Regions from separate parts of the Homo sapiens genome. Here regions 1, 2, 3, 5 and 6 are each linked to region 4. The links come from fine-mapping of genetic effects on gene expression. A gene starts in region 4. Each other region holds a variant in brackets. All regions are shown on one strand. Distances are from middle to middle.

Region 1 (4,084 bases), 35 kb after region 4:
GAACTTGAGGCCAGAGGAAGTGGCGCCGCGTGGGTCCCCTTAGGAGGTTTTGCCAGATGATGGGAGGTGCTTGCTCCCGTCCACCCAACCTCTAGCTCCTCCAGCCGGCCCCAGGGTAGCTGAGGGACAGGGGTCTGGGCCCAGAAGCCCCCAGAATCCTCAGCTCCAAACAGAGCTGTACCTGTCGCAATGGAGTAGTTTTGTTGATTTCAGGTTTTCTTTTGTTGCTGGGTAAGCATTTCCTGTGTGGGGTATATTCTTTCCTCCGTCCTGGCTTACTTCCACACATCACTTCATTAGGGAGGCCCTCCCTACCCACCTCGATGCCCTCCTTCTCCTGGCACAGGTGGGCAGGAGGGGACGAGGGTCATGGCCTTTGAGGGCCTGCAGAGGGCCTTGCCTGTGGTGGCGTGGCCACCCTGGTCCTCAGCAGGGTGCTCAGTGGATTCCAAGGTGCTCCCTGGACCCGGACCTCCCCTTCACTTCCTTTTAGCTCAGGTCTCAGCTTTCCATGCCTCTGCTGCCTCCCTGAACCCAGCCTGTCCCCCGCCCTGTTCAAGCAGACTGCCCCTCCCCTGGGTCCTGCCCTTTAAAGTTTGTCTGTGGGCTTCTTTGCTTCCCCACCAGACTGTGAGTCCCTGTGGAGCAGGCTGGGGCTGGGAGTATCCCTGAGTCCTGCAAAGGGCTGTGGAGCATCTGGGATCGTTAATGCCAAGGGGGACCAAGGTAACCTGGGCCATTTGCAGCACCAGCCAGTGCAGGCCCCAGGACCCGGTGTCCCCTCACTGTTTCCTGAGAACTCTGGACCCCACTAAGGAAACCATCAGACCAAAGTAGCTGATTGTCCAACTGGGAAAAAGAAAAAGCAGTACTTTTTTAGGCCATGTAAATGCAAAATATACATTTGAAGTCTGCGTTTAAGACATGAACTTAGAGATTTCTAAGCCTGTTTTTGGGGGTCACTCTAAAAGGGAGGGCATTTTCAGGTCCCCCCTCTGTGAGCATTCACAGCATCCCAGCCAGCCTGTATCCCTGTGCCGTGACCCCAGAGCACAGAGCCTCAGAGGCTGTGGAACAGGCCTGGGGTTCACGTGGAGAGTCCCAAGCCCACGTCATGACAGGAGATGCCCACACCTTCAACAAACAGACTCCAAGCTCCAAAGCTGCCTAACAGGAGTGGCAGGGGGACCAGCCCTGGCAAGGCCCAGGTTTGGCTGAAGCCCGTACCTGCAGCCCAGCTTGTAAGTTTAGCCGGGAAGCATCTGAGGCAGGCAGTGGAGGACGCACAGGGGTGAGCGGTTCATCTCACAGGTGTGGCTGGGTGCCTGCTACAGCTTCAAGGCATCAGGTGGGGCAGAAAGGGACAGGCAGGGTGCCCAGGAGTGGCGGAGCTGGAGGAAGGGCACAGCCCCAGGGCAGCTCCCGAGGAGCTCAGTTCTCACACCCCAGGTGGTCACAGAACACATTTCAGCCCCCAAATTGAACAGGGCTGTGTTCATTTTTTCCTTCCCCCAGCTCATCTTATTGCTTGTGTCAGCCTGGGTGAAAGGTTATTTATAATAATATTCTCCTGTCTCATCTGGGCAGCTTCTGCATGGAAGGTACCGAGTTAATAACTTTGCATGCGTTATTTTGTTCAAGCTTCACAGCAATCCGTGAGGTAGGTATTGTTTGTTGTTCGTTTTGCCCATTTTACAGATTAGGAAACTGAGGCCCACAGGCGTAAGCAACCCAAAGTCACACCGTTAGAAGGCAGTGAGATCTGAATGCTCAAGTCAGCATGCGCTCTTCTTCCCTCTCGTTTTCTGCATACGTGCTTTCTCCACGTCTCCCATATCGTAAGGGCATGGCAGGAGGAGAGGGAAACTGATGTGATGGTGGATGGCAAAACATTTTAGTGGTTCCAAGAATCAAGCCCCCTTGTGTATTCTTGGCTTTCAATGAACTGCGTCTTCAGAGCAGCGCAGGTTAAACCACTTTCTCGCCTCATTGTAGTCAATTGGCTTAGTTCAGCCAGAGCCAGGTCTGGCCCACCATGTGTCTGGACTGTGAGTGCCTTGAGGCTCAGTGTGACGCGATCGTAGGGTGAGCCTGGCCGGGCTGCAGCCAGCCACCAAGCCAGCCCTGGGCTCAAAGAGCAGTGAGGCCATTTTGAGAGAGGAATGCTCCCTCGTGCAGAGCCTGTCTCCACCTCCATGAGACGGGAAGGAACAGT[T/G]GTCTTCTCATAAAAGCATCTGGCGCCCATGAAACCTGGCACCTCGCTTGACCTCCGGCTAACGGGATGCGGCAGGGTGCTGTGGAACTAATGGAGTTCTCTTCTTCAGCCAGCAATTAGGGGTTAATTATTAGCAATTAGGGGTTCGCCACATACCCCGTGGACCTGCTGTTCCTTCCCAGGACACAGGTCACTTGTCATTCTCTGTGTTAGCAACTGAAACCGTCTGCCTTCTGGGTCCCCTGTTAATCATTGCAGCAGGGTCCCCACGAGTCTGACAGCAGGGTTGCGTTCTGTGCGACCTGTGGCATCCCTGGAGCTGCTGGCTGCTGCGCTCGCCCCACTGGGTGTGGCGGCCTGCCGCCCGGCTCTGTGGTGCTGGTCCCCTGCGGTCATTCTCAGCGTAGCGCCTGGACTGCCCCTCAGCCGCGGCTTGGCTCTGCAGCCAGCGGGACAGGCCCGGTGCTCAGCTCCCGATACTTAGCATCCTGCGGTCAGCTCCCCGTGCTCAGCATCCCGTGCTCCGTTCTGCTCTCTCCTAGGCGTTACTACAAGGAGACCTCTGGCCTGATGCTGGACGTTGGTCCCTACATGAAGGCGCTTGAGGTACCAGCCCTGGTTCTGTCCCAAACTCTCTTCAGACCTCAGGGCACCTGGGACTTTTTGGGTCTTTGTTGAGAAGAGGCTGTGCTTAATTAACGTACAAATGGCCTTTTGGGCTTCCACAAAGGCTGCCTTCCTATTCTGGGCTCCCCTGGCCGGGCCCTCGGGCCCTCAGGCCCTCAGCTGTCCTCCTCCCTCCCCATCTCTCCCTTCCCATCCTTCCCATCCTCCCCATCCTCCCCATCCTCCCCATCCTCCCCATCCTCCCCATCCTCCAGTGGGCGCAGCCCCCCCTGCCCGCCGTGGACCCTGCCGCTCTCCCAGCTGCTCTCTGCCACACTCCTCTCGGGCTTGTGGCTTCTGTATCAGTGCTGACCACCGCTCTCATTCCTGACCCTGGGCATCTGCAGCACCTCAAGCTTGACGGGTCCTCACTGGCCTCCTTCCTGACTTCCCCTTCAGTTTCCAAGGCCATCTGTGGCCAGGCCTCCGGGTGGGGCTCCCCTGGGTCCACTCTGGCCCAGGTCCCATTAGCTGCCCCAGGTCAGCCTCACATCCCGTCCCATCCTCACAGCTGCAGCCCCTCCTGCCTGCCTGCCGTCAGGTGGGAGGGAGAGGCAGACGAGCAGATGGAGCCCTGTGATGAGCTGCGAGTGGGCAGGGGAGAAGAGGGGGAGAAGGGATGAGAGGACGGAATTGCAGGCGAGTGAGCAGAGCACTGCTCTGCTGGCCCTTGGGAGCCCTGTAGTTTTGCCAGCTCTTGGATGCCTTCTGCTGTGGGTAGGCCTTTGAGTGGATGGCAGGGTGCCTGGTGCTAGGGGACCTGAGTGACCCGGGCAGCCCTTTCTGGAGTTGTGAGGCTCCTGCCTGTGAGATGAGTTCTCAGGCCCACAGCATCCTGCTTCTTCAAGGCCCTTGACTCTTGGGGGCACATTTGGGACAGTGTTTCCGTGGCTGGGCATACACCTGTTCCTTGATCCCAAACTTATGCCATGTCCCTCTCTCTTTTCCCAGTATGCCTGTGGCATCAAAGCCGAGGTGGTGGGGAAGCCTTCTCCTGAGTTTTTCAAGTCTGCCCTGCAAGCGATAGGAGTGGAAGCCCACCAGGTAGGTTGGCGCCTTGTGAAGTGGGTCAGGGGAGGCAGCCCCGTCAGGGAGGCCCTGGAGCTTGGAATGGATTACAGGACTCAGGCAGCCTGTGGGGTTGGCCAGGCAGCCAAGCGTGGGCTCCCTGTGAAAGCTGACCTGGCTGGGAAGGAGGGGGAA
Region 2 (4,084 bases), 130 kb after region 4:
GGAGCTGCCTCCAGGCCTTCCCGGAGGCCCCATGGCTGTCTTACTTGGTTTGTGGCTTCCCAGTAAACGGTGGGACAGGACCAGGGTCTGAGGAAAAGCAAAGCAGTGTTGACAGAGTGTCCTGGAGGGCAGCTTGTCTCCCTGGCCTGGAGATGAAAACTGAAGAAAACAAGATTCCGTCTAGGAATCGTCCAGGGCGCGGCAGCCCGCCAGGAGCCCGGGCAGCTTGGATGGGGTCCCTGTGGGCACAATCGGCCCAGTGTGGGGCGCACCGCCCCAGGCAGGCTGGCGTCCCGGGGGCCAGAATGAATGGACCCTCACTGGGCCGCTTTGACAGTTTATGAGGTGATGACGTTGCAGCTATGATTGATGAGGTGGCCTCAGTCGGCGTTTCGGGGAACCGGGTACAAGTTGCTAGGGAAATACAGGGGGAGGGTGCTGCCCTCCCCACTGGCCCGCTCTGGGTCCCTGTGCTATGCCTCAGTCTCCCCATCTGTGTGGAGGAACTGATGAAGACAGCACATGCCCCCTGCCCTGGTCCCTGGATTGCAAGTCCAGACAGAAGAGAGCGTCCTGGGAAGCCAGCTGAGAGCACCTCTTTCTCTTTGGGTCCTGCAGCCCGTGGGTGGCAGGGCGGTAACCCCATCTGCCCAGAACCAGGCTGCGCTCTCGGGAGGGAAACAGACTCTTATCCTCTTAGGTACAGCCTCCCTGGCCGCCTCGGATGAGCATCTGCCCCTCCCGGGCCTCAGTTTCCACACCTGAGATGGGAGAGGTTGCATCCTAAAGGCCCTCCATCTCTCAGGTTGGGGGATCACTCTTGTTTCCCTGCAGTTGTTTCCAGCATTAGAGTCACACTGGGGTCCTTGTTCTAGCCCCCGTGTGTTGGCTGCATGACCCGAACTTTACTCCCATGTCCTCCTCTTGGGGGTGTGACATGAGGTCTTCCCCAAGTGGCCCCGAGTGAGGCACCACCATGGACCTGATGGGCAGATCCCCCAGGGCACTCTATCCAGAGGGTGGTGGACCCAAACGCGACGTCCCCAGTGGCGGTGGCTGAGGAGAGGGGTTGGGGCGAGGACCAGCTCTGGGCAGTCTCCAGGTCATGCGCGTTTGACGCAGGAGGTTTTGCCGGCGCCAGGGGCTCCCTCGGCTGACCGAGGGTGTCCCTTACTCCATAAGGTACTGATATGGTCTGCGGAGCAGGTGGCATTTGCCATGCCTGCCCTGCTTGGGTATTTGGCCCCAGGGCCAGGGCTGTCCCTCCCACAGCTATTGAACACCAGGTCCTTGCTGCGTCTGGCTGGGCTGCAGAATACCCTTGACCTTTCAGCATCCTCAGTACCTCTGTGGAGTGCTGCCATGACCAAACTAGAGACTGTTATTATTACGCACATTTTAAGACAGCATCGGCCGGACGTGGGGGGCTCCCACCAGCACTTTGGGAGGCTGAGGCAGGCGGATCACTTGAGGTCAGGAGTTCAACACCAGCCTGGCCAACATGGGGAAACCCTGTCTCTACTAAAAATACAAAAAAACTAGCTGGGCATGATGGTGCATGCCTATAATCCCAGCTACTCAGGAGGCGGAGGCAAGAGAATCACTTGAACCTAGGAGGCAGAGGTTGTAGTGAGCCAAGATCATGCCATTGCACTCCAGCCTGGGCGGCAGAGTGAGACTCCATCTCAAAAAAAAAAAAAAAAAAAAAAGACAGCATCACTGTAGCCAAGGGAACTTAAAAGAAAAAAGTGCATGTTTAGACAGTTGTTCATTTCCTCCAGTTTCCTGCCAGCCCCCTTCTGTAGCTGTGGGCACGTGCACATATAAGTCTTCTCTTTCTCACCCTGCTCATTGTTCATAGCTGCATAATATTTTACAGAGCAGATAAACTCTGCCGGCCTTAACTACTCCCAGGGTCGAACGTCTCCTTTTCTATCGTAAATATCTCTGCAATTCCTATAGCTTTTTTCCTTCAATTCAGTAAACTTTTTTTTTTTTTTTAATTTGAGATGGAGTCTCACTCTGTCACCCAGGCTGGAATGCAGTGGTGTGATCTCAGCT[C/G]ACTGCAACCTCTGCCTCCTGGGTCCAAGCAATTCTCCTGCCTCAGCCTCCTGAGTAGCTTGGAAAACAGGCATGCACCACCACACCCGGCTAATTTTTGTATTTTTTAGTAGAGAGGGGTTTCACCATGTTGGCCAGGCTGGTCTTGAATGCCTGATCTCGAGTGATCCACCTGCCTCAGCTTCCCAAAGTGCTGGGATTACAGGCATGAGCCACCGCACCCAGCCCCTTTGCTCTTCCTTTGTCTTCTGCCATGATTGTGAGGCCTCCCCAGCCATGTGGAGTTGTGAGTCCATTAAACTTCTTTCCTTTAAACATTACCCAGTCTCAGGTATGTCTTCATTAGCAGCATGAAAACAGACTAATACACCATGTCATTTAATGAGGCTGGGCCTGCCTCTTTCTGATGGAATGAACTCTCCCCAGGTGACAGCCTCTGGTCCCCTCTGCCTTTGGAGTGACTTCTCCTGCATGGGGGTTCTGGGCAGGGTTGGGGGGTGAACACTGGAGAGGGATCAGTCCCAGCTCTGTTCTTCCCCACCCGCTGCAACCTGGTTGGGGACGCGAGGAGGGCACCCAGCAGGCTGCCAGGGGGAGGAGGAGGGACTGCAGTCTGGGCCCAGAGCCCGGTTGTCCCCCATGGAGCCACACAGCAGGCACCTCAGAGTTTGCATCCATTGGAGATGGCCAGGAGTCTGCTCGTGTGGGAAGAATGGCTTCTGAGCGCCAAGGTAGCCTGTGCTGGAGCCTTGGCTGCCATAGAAGGCCATTCACGTCCCTCACACCCTGGCCTGTGCTGCTGGGAAGGCTGTCACTCCTAAACAGTTATCTGCTTCTGTGTTAACCTACAGGGATTCCCTCTTTGCTTTGGCTGCCAGGGAACTCAAAGCTAAGTTTTTTCGCTCACATTCCCAGGCTTCTGGTGTAGATATCTCCTTTCTTCCTTACTGTGGTTTCTGAGCCATCTGGTGTAGATATCTCCCTTCTTCCTTACTGTGGTTTCTGAGCCACCCTGCAAACTTCCTCTGCATCTGTCCCAGTACAAATATCACTGTGTGCCCTTCTAGGCTATCTGGGACACTTAAAAATAAATAAATAAAGACATCTGTCTGAGGCTTAACTTGCATATAGCAAAGTGCATGAATCTGAAGTGTGTGGCTGATGAATCTGTACACACCGCTCTCCCTGCACAGCCACCCAGATGAAGACGAGGAGCACCTCCAATACCCAAGCCTCCCTCCACCCAGTCAACACTCTTCTCCAGAGGGAGCTAGCCCGTGCCTTCACCCCCGTCTTCTGCCTGACGGTAAACTTGAGGTGAATGGGCTCCTACCCATGAACACCCACCGTTCATTTCATCCGTGTTGTTCTGTGCAGCCAGACTCCATCCTACGGCATCCGTGGGTGATGTTTCATCACGAGGCTGGACCACGATGTGTTTATCATGTCACTGTTGCTGTCACATGGGCTGTTTCTGGCTTGGGGTCCTTATGAACAGAGCTGATCAGAACATATCTGTCCATGGCTCTTGGTGGACATAGCCTCATTTCATGTGTGTGACTCAGGAGTGAGGTTGCTGGGTCCCGCGGCATTCATGTGTTTAGTGTAGGAGACTCTTGCCAAACATTTCTCCAGAGTGTCTGATGTACCATGTTGCGCTCCCGCCAGCCTCGCTGAGTTCCCATAGCACCATGTCTTCTGCAGCACACGATGTGGCCGGACCTCTCCACGCTGGCCATTCAGGTGGACGTGGAGCGGTGTCATTTCCTTCCTGAGGGGCCTGCATGAATCCCTTTTAGGTGGAACACACACAGAGTGGGCCGGCGCTCATAAGCAGTCCCGTGTGAATCCTTGGAGAGCTGTGGAGGTAGCACAGCTGCATCTCTAGGTTGGGGCCACTCTTTTCTTGGAACAAGAGCCCTAAACGTGGGACCCTAAACAACACCCAGGGAGGAGCAGCCTGGCCTATGAGCAGGGGGACACCATGAAGCTGGGTGGACGGGTGGGGAGGCCCGACTTTAAG
Region 3 (4,084 bases), 22 kb after region 4:
GGCTCACTGTGACCTCCACCTCCTGGGTTCAAGAGATTCTTCTACCTCAGCCTCCCGAGTAGCTAGGACTACAGGTGCCCGCCACCACACCTGGCTAATTTTTTTTGGTATTTTTAGTACAGACAGGATTTCTCCATGTTGACCAGGCTGATCTCAAACTCCTGCCCTCAAGTGATCCACCCACCTCGACCTCCCAAAGTGCTGGGGTTACAGGACTGAGCCACCATGCTCTGCCTTATCTGCCCTCTCAGTGGTCCTCCACTCCAGCCTCATTTCCTGGCTCCACCTTCCACATACCCCACGCTGCTCGAGTTCTTTCTATCCGAGAGGGTGGGGCCAGTGCACACCTGCCTGTGCGCAAGGTGGGTGGCCCTTCCCACCACCTGGCCTGCCCTTTCCTGCCATCTCCTTGTCCGTCCCTCAGGTCTCCAGTTGGGCCTGAATCCCCAGTCTTTTAAGACCCCACACTGGGCTGTGTCCTTTCCCCACTATGTGGGAGAGCTCCAGGAGTGCTGATTTCCTGTTCCTGACTCCACTGTGTGTAGATATCAGCTCCATCTCCAAAGTCTCAGGCTCAAGAGCGGAACAGAAAGCCCTTGACATTTCTGGGATTCAGTCCCTCACCCATAACATGGATAAATTACATTCACACTGGGTTCAGTTTGAGTTGAGTTTTTAGTTGGGTCTCACTTGCTCAGATGGAAGTTGATTTCAAGCCGTAGTTCTAGTAACTGGGTTGAATCTGCGTGTATTCATTTCATTGGGCCACATCTGTAAACAGAACTTGAGCACATGCCTCCTCTCTATGTGTGTTTTCTATAAATTTTAAATTATTCATTTAACACTATTGCTTAGGTTATAAAAAATACACAACTTGAAAGAATAGGTGAAGAGCCAAGATGTCTGCATCTTTGGAGATCAGTGGAATGTGTGTGTTTCGGGACCTGTCTGAGAACAGTGCCAGATGCAATTAGCATGGCTGATTAATTTTACTAGGGTTTCTTAAAAGTGCCTCCCGGCCCTTGGGCTTGCAGCTTGATGTCTTTTCCACGAGTCCACACTGCAGCTCCATGCAGATGTCAAATATGACCGCTGCCTTGTTGGGGCCGGTTTGTCCAGGAAGGGATCTTGTGATCTTGGCGAGGGAGCCAGGTCCTGCCTGTCACCCTCCCCCCAGGTCTGAGTGACCCACCCCGCCTGCCTCTGTAGGTTCCTCTAGCACGCTCGGGTCCCTTCCTGGTGGGCGCCAGGTCCTCCAGCCTCCTCTCCCTGCACAGAAGCACCACACCCTGGCCCTCTCTCTTGCTTCCCCAGGGAGGCCTCCCCTGACCTTCCTACCCCACCTTGTCACCCTCTGTCTGCTCACCCTGTTTATATTCTGCATAGCGTCTCTCTCTTCTCAGTCACAAATTGCCCTTCCTTTGCAGGGTCTCTTGTTCCTATTCCAACCTCCTCCTATTCCAACCTGGATGGTGGCCTGGAGATCAGGGAACTTTTCCATGCTCACGACTACAGCTCTGTGCACCAGGCCAGTGCCAGGCACGTAGTAGGCGCTCAGTGACAGTTTGCAGAAGGGTGGATGTTACTTCATTTGGTG[C/T]GTTCTGAGAACTTGCCCAGGTGCAGCCTGGATTCGCGGGTCTCCTATGAAGTCAGGAGGGAAGAAGCTCGGTGCCGCCGGCCAGTGGCAGCATCCTGAAGTTCATGAGACCTCCAGGCTGGGTTTGGGCAGGGTCCACGTCCTGTCTGTCCATCCCGGAATGTTGGTGTCCCTGATGACTTTGGCAAACCTTTCTCCATTGACAGTGATGAGAAGACAAACCTGTCTCGGGCCATCTGCCTTTGTACTTTTTGGGAAGTATGGATCCAGAGTTAGTAAGGCGTGGACGTGTGCAGCTCACTTGCAAGTGGAAATGCCAAATGTGGTGGAAAGGGACAGAGAAATAGCTGTGGACATTCAGAGGTGGCCCCTAGCCAGGCTGAGCAGGATTGTGGAGAGGAGGTATTGCATGGATCTCAGGGGCTGGGTAGAAGTGGCCAGGCAGGTGGGCCAGGCACGGTGGCTCACACCTGTAATCCCAGCACTTTGGGACACCTGAGGTCAGGAGTTCGAGACCAGCCTTGCTAACATAGTGAAACCCCATCTGTACTAAAAATACAAAAAATTAGCCAGGTATGATGGCAGGCGCCTGTAATCCCAGCTGCTCTGGAGGCTGAGGCAGGAGAATCGCTTGAATCTGGGAGGCGGAGGTTGCAGTGAGCTGAGATCATGCCACTGCACTCCAGCCTGGGCGACAAGAGCGAGACTCCATCTCAAAAATAAAGAAATAAAAAAAATAAAGAAGTGGCACAGGTAGAGAGGCGGGGGGACAGAGTTGCATTCCAGGCAAGGGGAGAGGCAATGAAAAGGGGGGTCAGGTGGGGAACCTCGGGGAGCCTCAGGTGTATGAAGTCCAGTGAGGATGGAAAAGAGTTGTCGGGGCGTGGTATGGGGGTCCTCTGAGAAGGGATCTGCTTCAGCTCAGAAATCCCAGCCTGAACACATCCTGGATCAGCCAGGACCCCCTCAGGGGCTCGCAGTGGCCTAGTCTGCTCTGGGCTTTGCTGGATGCCCTTCGAGAATCACCGCGCAACCTCCTTCAGAGGCCCAACACTCCACGTGCTGACTTCCCGGGCCTGTGTCTCCCCTGCCGCAGACTGAAGCGTTCCCGGCTGAAGGTGAGGTTCTGCACCAACGAGTCGCAGAAGTCCCGGGCAGAGCTGGTGGGGCAGCTTCAGAGGCTGGGATTTGACATCTCTGAGCAGGAGGTGACCGCCCCGGCACCAGCTGCCTGCCAGATCCTGAAGGAGCAAGGCCTGCGACCATACCTGCTCATCCATGACGGTAGGCCTGTCGGACACCAGGACCTCACGGGGGTGAAAGCTCCCCTTTCCCAGGGTGGGGGCTGTGCAGAGAGCCTCTTTCACTGGGCCAAACCACTGACTGAGCTAGGCCACCAACACTCATGGGTTGGGGGTAAAAACCTCATGGGACTTCCTGCTGGGGGCTGGGGGCAGGTTAGGACCCAGCTCTGTCCATTCCTTGGCCTCACACCAGAGGGTCCTTAGAGCAGGTTCTGGATGGCTCCTGGGAGGAAAATCCTAGGCTCTCTTTCCTGATCTAGGATGGACCAAGCGGCCAGGGAATTGTCAAGGTGGCGGAGTTCTAGCTCCTGTTGAGAAAGAGACAGAGAGAGAGAGAGAGAGAGAGAGAGAAAATGAGAATGAGAATGAATGAATATAAATGAGAAGCTACATTGAGGTCCATAGCTTCTAACGTCTGGCACCATAGCCTTCAACTATGTGAAAACCAGCCCTGCTCTTTGGAACAGTTTGCAAATGGCGTAGGAACAAGGTTTGCATCCTGATTTTAGTCTGAATGCAAGAACAGACAGCCCCTTTGACCCTCAGTGGGGAGGTTTTCTTGGAATGAAGCAGAAGGAACAATATTACTGGTGCCTCCTGAATATTTAAAAAGAAGAGACATTAGCAATTCCAGACACTTCTCCATTGGTCCACTGCACCTTCTTCCTTCCTCTGCACTTGATATTTTTAGTTTTACAAACTGCTAGGCAGAGGCAAACATGGTTTTTTCCTTTCCAGGGCAAGGTGGGGGCTCTCAAGAAGTGGCGGGTGCTCCCTGGAAAGCCTAGATGTCGACTTCATAGCCCTGGTGCCAGTTAAGGGTGACAGGCCTGGCCTTTAGAAATCATGTTTCTCAAAATTCCTTCTCTGTAATCTAGGATCCCTGCTAGTGCCTTTAGAACATGGTCTTCAAAGAAAGAAGATTTAAGAAAAATATCTTGCCCCACCCTCCAGAAAAGGGTTGCTGGACCCGGGAGTGGAGCTGGAAGAAGCCAGCAGGAGAGGGAAGTGGGCATCCGCTTGGAGGGTGGCCTTGGCCAGTGAATCAGACAAGCAGACGGCAAAGCTGGGAGGCTGAAGGGAGGATGAATGCCCTTCCTCAGCTGTAATCCTGCATCCGTGTTTTCAATAACTAGACCCTTGTTTTCAGACTTGGAATTTTTTTTTTCAGTCATTGGTGGAT
Region 4 (4,084 bases):
CTGCATTCCTTCTGGAGGCTCTAGGGGAGAATCCAATTCTTTGCCTTTTTTAGCTTCCAGAGGCCACCTGCATTTCTTGGCTCATGGCCCCTTTGTATTCAAGGCCAGTAGCACGGTATCTTCACACCTCTCTCTCTGACCTCTGCTTCTGCTGTCACACCTCCTTCTCTGACTCTGACTCTCTCCTGCTTCCCTCTTTCCCTTATGAGGACTCATGTCATTATACTGGGCCCACCTGGACCATCCAGGATAATCTCCCTACAGGAGCATAGGCTCTGCAAGATCTAAGTCCCTTTTGCCATGTCAGGTAATATATTTAGAGGTTGTGGGGATTGGGAGGTGGACATCTCAAGGGGGCACTATTCTGTCTACTGTAGTCGTAGAAATGAAAAGGGACTTGCCCAAGAGTACCCACAGAGCTGACTGAAAAGAAACAACTATGGGTAGGCTCACACCACTGGCAGAAGCACCCCTTTTCCTCCTCCTTGGCATGAAGCTAAAGCCCAGCCATTCTCCAAGGTCCATTTCAGGCTGCCCCTGCCCAGAAGCCACAGCTGCCCTCCTAGGCCTGCAGAGGTCATCCTCTTGACTGTGTCTGTGTCACTCATTGCCACTTGGCACACATTTGGTCAGCAGTCGTGAAGGTCTTCCATTGTTCTCTGCCCAGTCTTGATCCTGGAAGGCAAGGATCACACCCTAGAACTTTTTTGTGCCCACTGCACAGAGTAGGGTCTCAATACGTGTACGGTTCATGATGTTCCTAGCAGATTCTCCAAACTGACTCACTCAGCCCCTGGAACACTAAAAACTGCATTTCCCAGACTCCTTTGCAGCGTGGGCTAGGTTCCACCAAGCCAGACACAGTGAAAGTGAGTGGGTGGCCACAGGTGGAGGGCACAGTGGTGGATATGTTTTGTTCTTTTGGGGGCAGCTATGCTGGGGGCTGCACTAAGTGATGGGGCAGTGGTCCCAATGGAGTAGTAAAATTAAGTGTTTCTCGTGGCTGCATGGCTCCTGGCTGTGTAGGACTTAGACCCGTCATCTGTAAGCTCCTTCACCTCATGTAAACAAAACCCCTCTAGCTGGAGTGGTGTCTATTGTCTGCGACTAAGAACCCTTATATAAGGTATACTACTCCCCAACCCCATTAGTGGAAATCCCAAAGGGTAGGAACTGTATTTTATTTCACTTGTAAACAGCTCCCCTAGTAAGCATGTCAACAAAATATACACAATTCATTGAACCCCATAACATTTCAACGAATTCCTCATCCTTTCTGTGAATCAAGAGCCTGAAAAGAAATGGTGAAATAATATGATCCTCTCTTCTTTGAAAGCTCAAAGCTATGTTGGACCAGAAGTAAAGTGTTCTCGTTTCTATTTAATAACTTGAAAGGTTCCGAGGGGCCATTGAGGAAACTCCTCCCTTTTAATATCAATGTGTATTTATTGCAAAAATAATGTAGCATCGAGTGGTATTTTATAGCTTATCCAAAAACCTCCTGGGTTTAACGCATTGTGATAGTCCCGTTTTCTTCTCAGCCCAGGTCCTATGCATCCTCATCTATGCAGGGCTGTTATCTGCATATAATTTTTTTTTTTTTTAAGACAAAGTCTTGCTCTGTCGCCCCGGCTGGAGTGCAGTGGTGCAATCTCGGCTCACTGCAACCTCCGCCTCCCAGGTTCAAGCGGTTCTTCCGCCTCAGCCTACCGAGTAGCTGGGACTACAGGCATGCGCCACCACACCTAGGTGATTTTTGTATTTTTAGTAGAGACAGGGGTTTCACCATGTTGACCAGGCTGGTCTCGAACTCCTGATCTCAAGCGATCCACCCGCCTCAGCCTCCCAAAGTGCTGGGATTACAGGCATAAGCCACTACGCCCGGCCTCAATTTTGTATTGTACTTTTTCTTTCTTTCTTTAATAGAGACAGGGTCTCACTATGTTGACTAGGTTGGTCTAGAACTCCTGGGCACAAGCTGTCCGCCCGCTTCTGCCTCCCAAAGTGCTGGGATTGCAGGCGTGAACCACCGCCCCTGGCTACAGGTGCCTTCTTGTCTCAATTTGCCTTTGACCTTTCTTAGGGACTTGTTTTCTGCTTTTCCTGCTCTTTGTCCGCTGATCTCCTGGGAAGAAAGCTTCCGAAAAGGACACCGTTTCAGGGGCGAGTGACGCCGGGGTGCCCAGGCCGCGCCCCAGTTCCGGGTTTGCACCCGGTCTTCTTGCCCTGCCCCGCCCGCGGGACTACAGTTCCCAGGCGCCCCTGCGCGGCCGCGGCGCCGGCGCCGGCGTCGGTTGGGACGCGGAGCTGAGGAGCAGGGCCGGGCGCCATGGCACCGTGGGGCAAGCGGCTGGCTGGCGTGCGCGGGGTGCTGCTTGACATCTCGGGCGTGCTGTACGACAGCGGCGCGGGCGGCGGCACGGCCATCGCCGGCTCGGTGGAGGCGGTGGCCAGGTGAGTGGGCCCCGGGACGCCGCTGGGGCCGCCGAGCTCTAAGCTCAGCCCGCTCCCTGGCTGCCGGCAGGGGGCGGGGCGGCAGGGGGCGGGGCCGCGGCGCAGGCCCCGCCTCGGTCTCCCCCTTCCCACCCCGGTGCGCGCACAGTGCTGACCACGGACGACCCCACTGTTGCCCCCGGCGAGCACCAGGACTCTGCTGGTTAGGGCTGCGCGGTCAGACAGGGCGGCCACCTGGTACGTGCGCTGCTGAGCGCTTGACCTGCGGCCAGTCTGAATTGAGATGTGCTGTAAGCGTAAAATGCATACCGATTAACAAGACTTAGCCGGGCGCGGTGGCTCGCATCTGTGATTCTAGCACTTGCAGAGGCAGAGGAGGGAGGATCGCTTGAGGCTAGGGGGTTGGAGACCACCCTGGGCAACATAGGGAGACCCCGTCTCTGCCAAAAATTTAAAAATTAGCCGGGTGTGGTGGTGCACGCCTGTAGGCCCAGCCACTTGGGAGGCTGAGGCAGGAGGATCGCTTGAGCCCAGGAGGTCAAGGCTACAGTGAGCTGTGATCACCCCACTGTACTCTAGCCTGGACTGCAGAGCGAGACGGTCTCATAAACAAAACCCCCAAAAACACCAGACTTCGTGAGTAAAATGTAAAATAAAAACATGAAAATGGGTTATGTTGTTTGCCTGTTGAAATGATATACTTTTTGTTTGTTTTGTTTTGTTCTTTTCAGATGGAGTCTTGCTCTGTCGCCCAGGCTGGAGTGCAATGGCACGATCTCGGCTCACTGCAACCTCCGCCTCCCGGGTGCAAGTGATTCTCCCCCTTCAGGCTCCCGAGTAGCTGGGATTACAGGCACCCGCCATCATGCCCAGTTACTTTTTTTATTTGTTTTGTTTGAGACGGAGTTTTGCTCTTGTTGCCCAGGCTGGAATGCAGTGGTGCAATCTCTGCTGACTGCAACCGCCGCCTCCCAGGTTCAAGCGATTCTCCTGCCTCAGCCTCCTGAATAGCTGGAATTACAGGCATGTGCCACCACACCCGGCTAATTTTTTGTATTTTTAGTAGAGACGGGGTTTCACCATGTTGGGCAGGCTGGTCTCTAACTCCTGACCTCAGGTGATCCACCTGCCTCGGCCTCCCAAAGTGCTGGGATTATAGGCGTGAGCCACATGCCCAGTTGATAATATTTTTAATATACTGTTTTAGGTTAAAATATTTGAAATTAAGTATACCTTTTTTTTTTAACTTTTGTTAATGTGCTTATTAGAAAACTTTAAATTACCTTTGTGGCTCTCATTATAATTCTGTTGGACTGCATTGGTTTAGGTGAGAGGAGGAGGAAGAGAACATCGTGCCAGCCAAGACTTGACCATGAGGACACTTTTTTTTTTTTGAGACAGTTTTGCTCTTGTTGCCCAGGCCGGAGTGCAGTGGCGCCATCTGGGCTCACTGCAACCTCTGCCTCCCAGGTTCAAGTGATTCTCCTGCCTCAGCCTCCCAAGTATCTGGGATTACAGGCACCCGCCACCACGCCCAGCTAATTTTTGTATTTTTGGTAGACATGGGGTTTCACCATACTGGCTAGGCTGGTCTCGAACTCCTGACCTCAACTGATCCACCTGCCTGGGC
Region 5 (4,084 bases), 140 kb after region 4:
GCCAAGTGACTTCAAAGCCGCCCGAGAAGGTCCTGTATGTGTGAGCAGGTTGGGCAAGGGGAGGGCGGGTCTCCAAGCTGGGAGCCTCCTCGCGGCCCTCGCCTCGGCACTGATGTGGCCCTGGACCCTCCGGTCCCTCCAGGCCACCCTTCGTGCCAGGACCCAGCTGGCTTCAATGGCAGGAGGTGCCCTGGGCTGGAGGGTCCCCACGCTGGGCTCCGGGGCTCCAGGTTGACTCAGCAGTCCCCAGGCCTGTGGGCAGAGCTGGCCTGGGAGGACACGGGCCTGAGGGCTGAGCAATCCCTGAGTGAGAACAGGTAGCTGAGGCTGGAGCCTGTGTCCCCCAGGCAGCTGCTAAGGCCCGGGCCTGGGGCTGGAGTGCTGGGCTCAGGTGCCATGTGAGCTCTTTGCAGGCAGGGACCAGGTCAGAGTCCTTTGTGTGCCTCTTGACCCCCAGGTCCTGGGAGAAGAGGGGCTTGGGAGGCCTTGGCTGGATGCACAGGCTCCATGGGAAGGAGCTCCTGCTCGGGTTTCTTTGTAAGCAGCACGACATGGCACCTTCCCAGAGGTACATGGGTCTGGGCATGTCATTCCCCGACCTGCTTCCAGAACCCAGGGGACGGAGGTCGGAGCAGCCTGCCTGAGATCTGTGGCCATCTCCACTCCGCCACCCAGCTACCCCGTAAGGAGGCCACCGACCCTCGGGCACCTGCCAGGGACCCAGCTCAGGCCAGGTCACGGGCTGGATGTGGGATGTTCTGGGCCTTCTGCCCACCTCACTGGGCCCCAGCAAGCTGCTGTCCTGAGGGTGGCCGTGCTGGGCCAGCACGTGGACAGCAGGGAACCCCATGGGCACAGGCCTAGTGTGTGTGATGTACCGGTGCAGACCATCTGATAAGCAGCCTTCAGAGAAGCTGCGGGTGTGCAGGTGGAGGCAGACCTCCCAGCTGCATCCTCCAGGCACTTGCCAGGGTCAGGCTCTGGTGAACACCCTTCTAGAAATAACCCCCCAGGCCCCCGGGGGTCTTGGGCTCCTGGGGTTCTGATGGAAGGATGCCCCTTGCCCGGCCTCACTACCTCCACCTCATGAATCACCCTCTGTCCTTGTCCTGCAAGTCTGTCGGCACAGCCGAGCTGGCGTCACCCTCTGATGCCAGTGCCCAGATCCCTGAATTCACTGGGCAGCCGCCCCCTGCACCTGGCTCCCAGCCACTGCCTTTCCAAAGCAAATGGGGACAGGGATACCTGCCCCTCCCTGGGTAGGCAGCTGTTGCGGCCTCCAGTTGTGAGAGTCTCTGCCCCACCCTGCCCCTTCCCCTGCCCCTGCAGGGTAGAGAGGAGGCGGGTGGGCCACCGACTGGGAGTCCCGGGCAGCTCAGGTCCCTCAAGAGCCCCTCGGGGAGAGGCCGCACCCGTCTCCCTTGGTCAGTGTTCCCCAGGAGGCGGTGCTGGCCTGCGTGTGCCCTGGAGGAGGCGGCAGGGAGACTGGCCTCATGGGGCTCTTTTGCTGGGGCCTGGCCACCATTTTCCTTCGATTGGTACAAAGACTGTCCCTGTGAAGCTGGCCAGGCCCCAGGCACAGAACCGCCTTGTTTTCTGCCTCTCACTCACCCGTTCCCTGCATTCGGCTGACAGAGCATGAGGGGGAGGAATCACTGATGACAGGCACTGGCCTGCCCAGCTGGGGGCCTTTGTTTATTCATTTGGTGGGCACTTCCTGGGTGCCTGCTCTGGGTCAGGCCTGTGGGGGGGACCACCGAGGGCAGGAAACCTGGCCTGTCCCTCCAGGAAGCGAAGTCAACACTGGCACCTGCAGATGAAGTGGCAGAGCAGCCCCCAGCTTTGATGGCATGGGGTGGTTGGAGGGCACATTCTGCATGCTCAGAAGAGAGAGCAACTCGCCCTGTGGAAGGAGCATACAGTGGGAGATGGGGACAGGTGAGTGGGGTCTTGAAACGTGAACAGGAGTTTGCAGGTGGAGCAGGTTTCAAGAGCATTCCAGGGCACAGCATGGGCAATGGCAGGGAGAGCTGGGATGTCTGAAGAGCAGCAGCCCAGACACTGAGTGGCTGGCGAGGCGAGGGAGGTCCGCAGGTGGGGCCCAGTCAGGATGGACTCATCTGCCATGCTGAGGAGCCAGGCTATGATGTGGGCAATAGGGAGCCACAGCAGTTTACACAGGGGAGGCGGGAGCAGCTGAGCATTTAGGGAAGCCACTCTGGCTGCAAAAGAGGAGAGGGGGCCAGGC[A/T]GGAGGGAGAGCCAGTGGAGGGGGAGGGGGAAGGGGAAGGGAACAGGCTTCAGCAGAAGACCTCCTGCCTTCAAGGGGCCCGGGTCACCCTGTGGGTTCCGGTGGTTAAGGCCAGCCTCCTGGTCCTGCAGCCACATGCCTCCCAGCTGTGTGCCTCCGCTTCTACCTCCGAAACCCGGGCAGCAGGACCCACCCTGCAGGCTCCTGCGCAAGGATGGGGGAGGTACCTGGAGGGCCCACCCCACATCAGAAGCAGGTCCTCAGCCAGAGACGCCCAAATGCAGCCCGAGGGAGGCTGCCCCCAGGAGAGGAGAGGAGAACCCGCAGCCGCCCCGCAGGCGCCTGGGGAAATCACTCACTGCTCCCACCTCCCAGCCAGGCCCCGAGGGCCAGGCACTCTGGCTTAGTGAAGAAGCCACCCAGCAAAGGCCTGGTGTCTCCACACCATTCTCGGGGGGACAGCAGCAAGGACGATGGACGGGAGCAGTGCTCAGCCTTAACGTCCCTGTTTCCGGAAGCGTCCCTGCCCCGCTCAGTCCTGCCCCACTCCCTCTCCCATCAGTGCCCTCAGACTCCAGGCCCTTTTCTTTCTTTCCCAGCAGTGCTGACAACTGTGAGTGTGGAACTGGACTGTGAACCCTGGAGGGCAGATGGTGGAGGTGGGAGGGGGCAGGGCCAGCGCCAGGGTGAGCTGCAGGGTCCCCAGGTGCAGGGGAAACGCCAACTTCGTGTGCAGTCTTGCCTCTTTTGTTTCGTTTCAGAGTGGCCCCCAGAGCCAAGCCCTATGCTACCTTACAGATGAGGAAACTGAGGCTCGGGCAGGTGAAGAGACCGGCCCTGGGCCATGCACTTTTTTGGGGACAGAGCAGGGTGCTCAGCTGTCTGGGGGCCTGGGCTGGGCCTGGGGCAGGGGGAGGAGCAGCGCTGTGACCCCCACGGGGAGCCGTCAGCCAGGCCCGTAGCCAGGGAAGGGCGGAGGGGCTTAACGCAGGCCCACATGGCCAGGACACAGAACCGTGGGGGCAGCCCCAGCCCTTCCCTGCCTGTTACAGGCCCCTGCCCCTGTTCCTGTGTCCCATGCCTGTCCCCTCCCTCCATGTGTCTGTCTCTACTCGCCTGCCCTCTCTCTGCCCTCTTTTCTCTGCTTCATCCTCTTTTTCCGTTTCTGCCTGTCTCATGGTTCTTCCTGTCCCTGCCCTCCCTCCCTCCGTGTGTGGCCGTGTCTCTCTGTCTGTCTCTTCCTCCTCCTCCAGCTCTGTCCCAGTAGGGCCACTCCGGGCAGGATGGTCTGCGGCCCCTCCTGCTTCACCCTCTCCGCTCTGTACCCACTGCCGAGGACACACCTTTGCTGGGTTTCTTGGTTCAGCTTTTGTACCGTGACATCTCTGAGGTCCACAGGTCACAGGGCACTGGCCAGTGTGGGGCAGGGACTCCTCCTGCCCAGGCCATTGGACAAAGCAGAGCTGCTTCAGGGGCTTTGGGGCCACCAGGCCAGGAACAGGTCCCCTCCTGCCTACCCCAGCTCCCTGGGAGACACAGCCCACAGCAGCGTCACGTAATTAAGACATAAAAGTCCACGATTTCCGCTGCGTGTGGGCAAACACCGGCCGGGTGCTAATGCAATCCTTTCTTTTAGTGGATTCTTGAATTTAAATGATATGTAATTAAACATAATTAGCCACGGACGCCATTCGGCTAGGTACACGTGCGGAGTGGGGCTGGCCGGATTCTCATTACAAAGCGTCATCTTCTATGGGGAGACCTCTTGTTCCCTCTCGGGGCTGGTTGCTTTTGCCTGGACAATAAGCCTGGCCCCAGGGCACCTGGGGAAGGTGT
Region 6 (4,084 bases), 120 kb after region 4:
GGGAGAGGGGCCGCCATCCTGAAGCACACCCCTCCTCGTCTTCCTGAGGCCTCCATCCCTTCCTGATCTTCCAGGTCATGGGCTCCAGGCTTGGGCCCACTGCTGTCCTTCTCCACTCTCTCCCCAGGGAACCCACCTGGGTTGTGGCCTTAAACCCAGCCAGATGATGCTTCTCCAGCCTCTGCCTCCTGCCGGGCCCTCCCCTGAGCTCAGAAGCTGCCATCAGTAGCCATGCAACCTCCCCCTTGCCATCATGAAGTATCTCAAACTTGGCAGCCTCGAAACAGAGCCCTTGGGGAGTTTAAGCAGAAACAGAATATTTTTGCATAGTCTTAAAGTAATTCCCCCCACCCCCAAATATTGAGCAATTACAAAGGGCAAAATAGGAAGTTTACGGTGGAGAATCCTGGTGGACACAGCCTTGGCCAGGTGATCAAGGTTCATGTCACCAGTCATGAAGCGGCGTGCACCCCTGGTGTGCTGAGAAGGGCAGCTTACCTCCTGCAGGTGCCCTTGCCCCAACGCACCACTCAGCCTAACCATGGGGAGCATCCGACAAAACCAAGCTGTCCGCATCTCCAAGGACAGGCACACTGGGGCTTAGGGCTTCAGTGGGGGCGGAGGTACAGTTCACTCCCTAATACGCCATTTACTTGGAGAAGCCCTCTCCAGCTGCCTGAGGCAGAAGCACCCGGTTCTCTCTCTGCAGGACCCCTGCTTTGTTCTTCCTAGGATGCGTCAGCCCCTGATTTTCCATGACAGTCCCCTGTGCCCATGTCCTGCAGCCTCTCCTGGGGGCAGGAGCTACAGGGTTTCTTGACTCCTACCTCAGCACTTTGGTCCAAGCTCTGAGCAGAGACCTCTGTAGGCGTCTGCAGGACTGGCTGGCCCTTGTGTCTGTCTTTCCCCTCGTCCTGGCCCCCTTTGTCCACTCCTGCACCAGCTTCCCTGGACCCACTGCCACTGCGTCACGTGGTCGGATCTGTGTCCCCTGCACTCTCACCACCTCCAACTTGCATCCCGGTCCCCCACACCCTGACCCCCAAAGGCATTGTGCATGTGGATGAGTGAGTGAAGGAAAGGCTGGCGTGTTGGGTGTGCGAGGTCGCAGGGGCATGAGGTGCCTGGACGGCAGAGAGCCAGGGCTGGGTGAGGACCTGGGTGCCAGGTCGGGGGTCTGGGCAGCCTGGTGGCCCCCTGAAAACGTTCACATCCCTTGGGGCCTGCTGTGATACATACTAATCAGTGCTTCATGAGAAAGGTATGAGCCGAAAGAAATGGGGGTTCCCACTGGATTGGTCGTTTCTGCATTGTCCGGAGCTCTCAGACCTGGTTTCTTAACCACTGTGTTCACTGAACACCCCGGGCTTGATCAGCTGCTGAGGGTGACTTCACATGAGATTATAATTGTACTGCCTAATAGAGTGCTCACACATGTTAAAACTACCTGGCAGGCAGGAGTGAGAATACAGCTTTCCCAGAAACGTGTTCAAAGAAAAACCCATTACCAACCCGGCAGAACATAAAGTACTAGTGTGGGGTATGAGGCAGCATGTGGGGGCGCTGGGGTGGCAGCAGGGCCAGACCCCACTTCAGGGGTTGCCCCCAGGACCCCCCTTGCGGTACCCGTATATCCCACCCCCAGACTCCTTTCCATGAGCTGCTCCCAGACCCCCTCATATCCATCCTGCCTCCAGAACCCCTATATCTTGCTCCCACTCCCTACCATATGCTGTTCCCAGACCCCCCTCCATGGCCTGCCCCCAGATCCCCCTTTGCTGCCACCCCTATATCTTACCCCAGACTCCCCCATATCTCGCCCCCAGACCCTCCTCCATGGTCTGCCCCCAGGCCTGCTGGTAATATGGGATACAGAGGTCTCCTCACTGCACACACAAAACTCCTTCCCTGAGCGAGGGATAGGCAGAGCTGAGGGCGGGGGTACTGGGGGGCTGAGGGGGGTTCTTTAGGGCAGGAGTTACCTGCCCTGTAGACGGGGAGACCACATTAGTGTTTGTGCAAAGCCCTGCCCTCGTGCACCTGTCCTTCCGTAGCCCACGATACCTCATCCAGCCCGGGCCCGTGGGTGGGCTGCTGAGCACCCGACCACAGCCAGGCCTCCATGTGCCACTGTCAAGGGGACTTGGCCC[G/A]CCATGATCCTGAGTGCACAGGTACATTGCTCCGCCCTCTCAACAGCCACGACCCAGAAATAAAGTAGGCACTGTAATTTGCATTTTGAGGATAAGGAAACCGAATAATAGAGTCTACTGAGCGCATACTCAGTCTTTCCAGACCCTAGAAAGTAGGTACCATTGTCATCCTCATTTCAGAGCTAGGAGAGCAGAGGCCAGACAGGTTCCATAGCCTGCTCAGGTGGGTCCGTGCTGGACCAGGAGAAGGGCCAGGTAGGCTGATGGGTCCTGAGCTTGTGCTCCCGACCGCCAGGCTGTGTGTCTGATGGCCGAGGCCAGGGTGGCTCAGCCAAGCCCAGCCAACCCAAGACTAGACCATCCCCAGCGTCCACCCCAGCCTCCTGGGCACAGGGGTCACCTCCCACCCCTGGCCCACCCATACAGCCTTTTCCCATCTAACCTTTTCTTTAAAGGAAGGCATCCCTTGGAATGAGTCCACCCTGAGATTTTATGGATCCAAAGAAAAAACTTAATTAGCTGCATAAACTGTCAGTTGAGACTCTCCAGAGGACACACCTCCGGCTTTCAGGTTCCCCAGGGAATCTGAGGCTCTGAGGCAGGTGGACAGCCAGGTCCCTCTTTACCCAGCACCAGGTAACCTTAGAGGCCTGGCCCTGCCTTCCTCATTTTGAAATGTCACCCTGTGGTCATCTCTCCTTCCCTGATGTGAAGCAGTGACCAGTTCTGCCCCATCCTACACATGTGTGCACACATACATGCACACATGTGTAAATACACATGCATGCACATGCATATGTGTGCACACATATGCACATACCTTCACCTTCCTATCCCTCCCCAGGGGAAGGCCTTCCTTGGGGCTGCCCCTCCTCCACTCTGGCAGCATTGGGACTTGAATCTTGTGGCCCCGTCACAACTGTACTCAGCTACTCCAGCTCCTTGTGTGACCTCTCAGCCCCCAGGCTCTGAGCTACCTGAGGTGAGGTGGGGCCACACTGGTCCCCACCTCGGTGCAGCACACACAGCCCCATCCTGGGAGTGCCACCCAGGTTTCCTCTAACTGTGCTTTCCAAGGGCTGGAAGGACCTCTTCCTCTATGCCAGGTGTGCTAGAGTGGCCCCAGCCGAGAACCTGACTGGGACCAAGCCCCAGGACAGTGGTCAGGCACACACCTGAGTCGCTCTTCCTCCCATAGACACATTTGGAGTTCCCACTGCCTTCCTAGGCCCCACCACATGCTGTCACCTCCAGGAAGCCTTCACAGGTTGCTCCCTGCTGATAGCCTTGACCTGCTTCCCAGGGCATTTGCAAGGGAGTAGAACGAAGACCAAGTCCGTGCAGGGGCTGCTGGCTCTGTGCTCAGCACACGCCCCGTGACCACCTCAGGGGCGGCTCTGCGAGTCCCCACTTGACAGGTGAGCCACAGGGCCACAGGCATGGCTTGGGGTCCTCTGCGGAGCCCGATGTGTCACTGGCCCTCACGTGTCCTTCTCCGATCTGCTCACTCATTCATCCATTCATTTATTCAGCAGGGGTTCTTGAGTGTCTCTGAGGTGGAGCGTCTGCTGTGAAGGACTGGCGGGACGCAAACGGTTACCACTGGTGTGACGGGCTCTGATCAGGAGGCACAGGGTGTTGGGGAGCTCAGAGGGTGACATCTCACCCTGCCTTGGCCAGTGTGGGAGGGAGAGGGTTCAGGGAGGATGTAACTGTGTGTGTGGCAGGTGCTGTGGTGGCACAGAGCTGAGGGGACATAGGCACAGTTGCTGGATGCAGGGCTTACACCGCGCCACGCGTCAGAAGCTAGCAGGGGCTGAGCAGCATCTCTGCCCTCCCCGCTTGCACCCCCACCATCCAGTGCAGCCCAGCACCTAGGGGGCATGGGGCCAGTGCCTGGCACATTTTGTCCTGACTGTGGAAAAAAGCTCTTC

Direction of the effects. Alleles are on the strand shown, and positions count from the first base shown. SD is a standard deviation of normalised expression in the study named. Not every link is listed here.
With allele G in place of T in region 1, the expression in skeletal muscle of the gene that starts at base 2,290 in region 4 is lower (small effect, 0.17 SD a copy in GTEx).
For the expression in spinal cord of the gene that starts at base 2,290 in region 4, allele G in region 2 goes with a higher level than allele C (moderate effect, 0.46 SD a copy in GTEx).
As copies of G replace A in region 6, the expression in caudate of the gene that starts at base 2,290 in region 4 goes down (small effect, 0.27 SD a copy in GTEx).

Evidence for each region. PIP is the estimated chance that this variant, and not a neighbour inherited with it, causes the effect.
Region 1: its variant is fine-mapped to the expression of LHPP in skeletal muscle (GTEx, PIP above 0.99).
Region 2: its variant is fine-mapped to the expression of LHPP in spinal cord (GTEx, PIP above 0.99).
Region 3: its variant is fine-mapped to the expression of LHPP in whole blood (INTERVAL, PIP above 0.99).
Region 5: its variant is fine-mapped to the expression of LHPP in whole blood (TOPMed, PIP above 0.99).
Region 6: its variant is fine-mapped to the expression of LHPP in caudate (GTEx, PIP 0.99). The same link has a PIP of 0.9 or more in amygdala.

What each region holds. Positions count from the first base shown.
Region 1 is chr10:124,494,204-124,498,287 of GRCh38, forward strand. LHPP (phospholysine phosphohistidine inorganic pyrophosphate phosphatase) reads left to right here. Exons shown (of 7, transcript NM_022126.4): 4 at 2,758-2,821; 5 at 3,833-3,925. Among named protein-coding and RNA genes, the nearest start is that of LHPP, 34 kb to the left of the region's middle. RefSeq lists enhancers at 997-1,574, 1,575-2,152, 2,153-2,730. The variant T/G (reference allele first, on the strand shown) is at 2,216.
Region 2 is chr10:124,592,643-124,596,726 of GRCh38, forward strand. The region is part of intron 6 of LHPP (phospholysine phosphohistidine inorganic pyrophosphate phosphatase); the gene reads left to right. Among named protein-coding and RNA genes, the nearest start is that of FAM53B-AS1, 110 kb to the right of the region's middle. The variant C/G (reference allele first, on the strand shown) is at 2,062.
Region 3 is chr10:124,481,446-124,485,529 of GRCh38, forward strand. LHPP (phospholysine phosphohistidine inorganic pyrophosphate phosphatase) reads left to right here. Exons shown (of 7, transcript NM_022126.4): 2 at 2,694-2,881. Among named protein-coding and RNA genes, the nearest start is that of LHPP, 22 kb to the left of the region's middle. RefSeq lists enhancers at 86-622, 2,233-2,769, 2,770-3,305 and a silencer at 255-549. The variant C/T (reference allele first, on the strand shown) is at 1,598.
Region 4 is chr10:124,459,534-124,463,617 of GRCh38, forward strand. LHPP (phospholysine phosphohistidine inorganic pyrophosphate phosphatase) reads left to right here and starts at 2,290. Exons shown (of 7, transcript NM_022126.4): 1 at 2,290-2,454. The coding sequence starts at 2,330. RefSeq lists a silencer at 2,170-2,629.
Region 5 is chr10:124,603,578-124,607,661 of GRCh38, forward strand. All of the region lies in intron 6 of LHPP (phospholysine phosphohistidine inorganic pyrophosphate phosphatase), which reads left to right. Among named protein-coding and RNA genes, the nearest start is that of FAM53B-AS1, 98 kb to the right of the region's middle. RefSeq lists an enhancer at 2,320-3,264. The variant A/T (reference allele first, on the strand shown) is at 2,249.
Region 6 is chr10:124,574,770-124,578,853 of GRCh38, forward strand. All of the region lies in intron 6 of LHPP (phospholysine phosphohistidine inorganic pyrophosphate phosphatase), which reads left to right. Among named protein-coding and RNA genes, the nearest start is that of LHPP, 110 kb to the left of the region's middle. The variant G/A (reference allele first, on the strand shown) is at 2,151.